2 separate regions of the Homo sapiens genome follow, and region 2 is linked to region 1. The links come from fine-mapping of genetic effects on gene expression. Tissue or cell type: tibial artery. Region 1 holds a variant in brackets; the other region holds the start of a gene. All regions are shown on one strand. Distances are from middle to middle.

What was found. PIP is the estimated chance that this variant, and not a neighbour inherited with it, causes the effect.
Region 2: FRA10AC1 starts here. The variant in region 1 is fine-mapped to the expression of FRA10AC1 in tibial artery (GTEx, PIP above 0.99). The same link has a PIP of 0.9 or more in skeletal muscle.

Annotation. Positions count from the first base shown.
Region 1 is chr10:93,728,170-93,730,933 of GRCh38, forward strand. No RefSeq gene overlaps it. Among named protein-coding and RNA genes, the nearest start is that of FRA10AC1, 27 kb to the left of the region's middle. The variant A/G (reference allele first, on the strand shown) is at 1,509.
Region 2 is chr10:93,701,087-93,703,850 of GRCh38, forward strand. FRA10AC1 (FRA10A associated CGG repeat 1) reads right to left here and starts at 1,506. Exons shown (of 14, transcript NM_145246.5): 1 at 1,289-1,506. RefSeq lists an enhancer at 1,495-1,794.

The DNA of each region.
Region 1 (2,764 bases):
CCGACCTTCCAGTTTACACACACAGAGCCACTTTGTGCCTAAGGTACATCTATAGTGCCTAGGTGGCTGGATCAACAGATGCAGCATCCACACCCTGAAATTTTCCTAGAACCCTTTTCTTGACTCCACTCTCCGCTGGAGAACCTAGAAACCCTTAGCTTTAGTTTAAGGTGGTAACATTTGAGGAGTTTGGGAAGGGGAAGAGATGAGCATACTAGGAAAGCAAACAGTGTGACCAAAGGCAGAGTAGCAGGAAACTCAGGGTCAGCCACAAGAAACCTTCACTTGTCTGGACACAGAATCCATGCAGGGTGGGGAGCTGGGAGACGTAGAAAGGCAGGGCTATTTACAGATTTTATATTGAGGGCCAAGTGGTGTACAGAGGAGTCAAGATTTAAAGCGGCAATCATTCTTTCCTCACAACGTGTACAAAATGCTTTGAAAGTTCCCCTTTCTACCACATTTTAGACTTGGTGCAGAGAACTAGAACCCACTGTCACCACTTCAGTGTTCTGCAGAGTGGCGGTGGCCCTAGGGTGCCCTACTGAGCTACAGTGGCACATAGGAGTAGACAGTCTTCCAAATCATTAGGGCAGCATCTCCCAGGCTGGCCTATTGCATAACAAGGAAGAATTCTATGATAGGAACAAGCTGAAAGTGTTATAGGAGTGATATGGTTTTGATCTGTGTCCCCACCAAATCTCATGTCATATTGTAATCCCCATTGTTGGAGGTGGTGCCTGATGGGAGGTGATTGGATCATGGTGGCAGAATTCTCATGAATGGGTTAGCAGCATCTCCTCGGTCCTGTTCTTGTGATAGCAGGTGAGTGAGTTATCATGAGATCTGGTTGTTTAAAAGCATGTAGCACCTCTCTCTTCTCTTTCTTGGTCCTGTTCCTGCCATGTTAGAAGCCTGCTCCCACTTTGCATTCTGCCATGAGTAAAAGCTCCATGAGGCCTTCCCTGAAGCAGATGCTGCCATGCTTCTTGTATAGCCTTCAGAACTGTGAGCCAATTTAACCTCTTTTCTTTATAAATTACCCAGTGTCAGGTTTTTCTTTATAGCAGTGTGAGAAATGACTAATACAAGGGGGCCTTGAAAATACACTCAAGATAGTCTATGACAATCAGAGAACTGATAGTGATCATATCATGAGAATTGACTTCCCAAAATCCTATCTATGTTGATTGATAAGGAGTATGTTCATTCACTGATCTGGCCAAGGAGAATGTGACTGGCCACGATTGGCTTAGACTGATCTTGTCATTGGATTTCAACCCTGGCCATAAAATAGAACCACCTGAGTAGCTAAAGAAAATTGCCGACATCTAGGTCCACACCAGTGATTCTAGACTCATTGGGGCTGAGGGAACAATGAGTACAAAGGCCGGGAGTCAAGAGAACATGGTGAGTTTATGTGGATATTGATAGTTCTACATGGCCTGAACACAGCGTAGGGAAATAAATTCATCACCTTAGGCCTCAGGTGACACACTGGGACTACC[A/G]CTGCTCTGTGAGACAAGGAAGTGGTGGGATAAGATCTAATGCTTTGCACCTAAGTCTAAAATGTGGTAGGTTCCCCTGTAGCCATATCAAAGTAGGTGCTGTTAAACAAGGGAATCTTAAATAAATCTTTGAGAGAGTCTGCAGTGGTTAAGGGTGCATGCTTGCGTGCAGCAAAAGATGAGCTCAGTTCTATCATCTAACACCTGGGGAGCAAGCCAGGGGACCAGACCTGAACCTTTGCGGGGAATCAAGTACTTAAAGAGGTATCACCTTTAGATTACCTTGTCCTCACCCTGTTCCCACTATTGTCTTTCCATCGTAGTGTTGAAAACTATAATGTCTACATATTTCACTGTAATGTCCACAAATTCAAAAAAAAAATGCCCAGGTTTGTAGAACGTGCTCCGTAAATGTGACAGTTTCTGCTCTACTTGCAAAGCTCAATAACTTGTAGTCAGGTTCTTGGGCTCTTCCAAGAACTTACCATGCCAAAAACCTATCCTGATTCTACCATTTACTTGCTATGTGCTATTGGGCAAGTTGCTTTACCTGTCTAAAACTCAGCTTCATCTGTAATATGGGGGTAATGATAAGTACTTAGGTCAGAGACTATGTGTTCCTCACACTTTCTTTTTCCTCCTGGTCATAGTCGTTGTGCACTTTTCCCAACCTTTCTTGCAGCTAGGCAGGCCATGTGATTGCATTCTATCCAATGGAATGTTGGCAGGAGTGATGCATGCTATATCCAGGCCTAGATCTTAAGAACCCTCCCATGGGGTCCCTGCCATGTGAACTTGCTCCCTCTACCCTCATCTGCCAGTGAGATGCAGAAGATCCAGTGAAGAACTTCAAGGTCCTGGGGAGGGTGAGTTTATTCAGGAAGGAACCTGAATCCCTCCCCCGCCTTCTGCCCATACTGTGCCATGGGTAAAAATCAGCCTTTAAAATATCAAGCCACTGAGATTTGAGGGTGTTTGTTATGGCTGTTAGCCTCACCTGACTAATTCAGCAATTCTGAGAATCAAACGAGAACATTTATTTATAATCACGGTGTCAGGCACAGAGTAAATATTTAGTAAGTAACAGCTATTTATCATCATATGATGTCAGCCCTGCTTTAGGTATGTAGACTTTTCCCTTCCCATATCTTCAAATGCTATTTCTTCCCTTTGATCCAGTGACCAAGACAACTCTGGATGTCCAGTGCTGCTTTATCTTTAAGCCTAATCACAACATTAATGCATTGCTTCTCTCT
Region 2 (2,764 bases), 27 kb before region 1:
CAGCATCCCAAAATGCTGGGACTTCATTTTAGAACTGAAATTCTTAGAAATGCTGGAAGACCTCAGTTGCCACTCAATTGTATTGGAAGAAGCTCCTAGTTCCAGCTTTGCACTGAATTTGGAACACACACTAAGAAGGAAGGATGGACTATTTGATGTCATACATAACTAATTTACATGGCTGGAAGGAACAGTCCAGGTTAAATGATATATCAAATTGTTAAAACTAATATAACGACAGCAAGTGCAGCTGGAAAAAGAGGAAAGAACTCTCTAAACTTCATTGCATTGGATCTAGGGTAAACGACATGTTTCTAGTCCTGGCTACCTTGAATAAGTCATTTCATCTCCCTGGACTTCATCTATTAAATAAGATAGCTACATGAAATAATCTTTAAGTTGTTTAAATCTTTAAATAACCTTTAAAGTCTGTAATTCCATTTTCAAACATAGGTGTGTGGGTATATACCTCTCTTCTCTGCCCCACTAAAATCCTAGATAGGAAGATGCTAGTTAAGGTTGGAGATGAAGGTTTGAAAGCCCGAGTTCCAACTCTACCCTCCCTTACATCTGTTATTGCCTTACACACCTGGATTTTACACCCTTTTTTAGGTCAACTCCAGCTGTCTTACCACATCTGTTCAAGCCATATTGTCCTCTCACTCTTTGTCCTATGTCCTCACGTTCTTTACATCTTGATGGGGGACAGCTGTAGTGTGTTTAGAGATATATTCTAGGATCAGCCTACTAGATTTCACTGCTTGGCTCTGCACTTTCCATTTGTCTTTCTTTGGGCCTGTTCCTTAACCTCTCCAAGCCTCAGTGTCCTCATTTATAAAAAGAGGCTAGTAAGATGGCTGACCTCATACGAATGGAGATTAAAAGAGTTGCCTCATCTAAAGGGTTTTAACGGTGTCTTGTACAGTGAAACCCAGTAAATGTTACATCATCATCATCATCTTTTCCCTCGCCCCAGGACACGACTTCCTATTCTTGCTCCCACTCTCCCATTTCTTTATTCGCTGGCCGCTCCATCCGACCCATACCTATCTTAACTCACTGGTTGAACTAAAAAGCTCTCACTCACTTCAGGCCTACGAATCAACTGACAAGAGCGGGGAGAAACTCAAAAACGGAGATGCCAGGTGTCTCCAGAATCTGTCATCCAAAAAAAAAAAAACCAAACCAAAACAAAAAAAAACCCGACGATCAGCTAGTACTATATGAAAAACAAGTTTTGAGGTCCTTCTCCCTGATGCCAAATATACCCACAGCCCTCCTCACACACCCTTTCCCTTCCTCCCTGTGTGCCAAGTTCGCCCCCGGAGTCGTCGTTTCCTTCTTTCCCGGCAGCTGCAGCGACGACCCACGGCCTGAGAGAGCCGCTGCAGCACAGGTCCCGTGCGCCCTGCCGCACAGCCTCGCCACAACCACCACCGCCGCCGCCGCCGCCGCCGCCGCCCGCAACCCGCCTCTCCCTACGGGTCCCGACTGGGCACCACTTCCGGTCCGACACGGCCACGTGTTACATCTAAATGGCACCGTCCCCCGAGTGCGCCGACCTTGTGCTACAGCCAGAACAGCTCCGGGAAACAAGGGCAGCGGGAGAAACGGCCCGGAAAGGGACGAAGAGGCTTCCAGCTTTCGCCAAGTCGCGGCTCCCAGTTTTTCCCTGGGCCTCCTTCCTTTCCCCTCTAGGGAATCCGGCATCTAGTACCGCTGGCACTGCTTGCTGCTTAGCCCACGCCTCTCATTTGAAAATATATTTTGTTTTACCGTGCCTATCACCTGCCGTCCTCTCTCTAGTAACCTTAGTAACGCCTCCTCGGAGGATCCTCTCAGAGCAGCTCATCAGCGCTTCAGATCAGCCTCTCCCTCCTTCCCCCAGTAAAACAGTTCTCATAATTAGAACAAAAATATCTCTCCATCGTTTCGCCACCCACACAATAGATACCATTCCAAAAGCAGTGCTGATGGCAGAAGAGCTCATCGAATTTGTGAGGAAAGAAAGAATAGGAGGAGAGATTTCTCAGGGTTGAGGATTCTCTGCCGACAAGCGACCTGGCACATGCGAAAAGGGATCCAAAATAGAATCTTAAAAAGAAGAAGAAAAAAGGCAGGAAAAGTTGGATTATTTTAAGCGCCACTAGGTTCTTCCTGTGCTTTGCGTTTTCTACATCACGACGCCCCACTCTTTCCACTCTAGTTGTTTGGTTCATGTCTTGTCTCTCGCTGGCATTAGCAGCTATTCATTTTTTGCTTCCTCCTCAGTACCCAAAACGGTGCCTTGGAAATCACAAGTGCTAATTAAATATTTGTTGAATTGAACTGGCACGCTTCTGGCGTTTACAGTGGGCCCTTTTTAGAGAAAACCTTGGCACTTAATGCACAGTCATTTTACATCTTTTGCCCTAAACAGTAGATAACGATATCCTTATCAGTTCAAGTCTCTAACCCTGACAATAAATTATAGATACATTCTGCTTTATCCATTGCACTGAATGTGATCTTAAAAGGCTATAAGATAAATTAAATTATTGTAAATTAACTTATTCCAAAATGCAATCAGATTATACTTCAATAAAAACTTTTACTAAAAAAAGTGAAAGCAATAGGAAGCCTTACAATTTGACGTTATAGTATATGGAATTATTTTGTCAAGCAGTTTCTTTTTTGGTAAATATATTAAATATATAATTATTTTATTGTTAATAAAACTAAACAGACCTATACCTCATATCCAATTTCCTTTCTATCCATATTT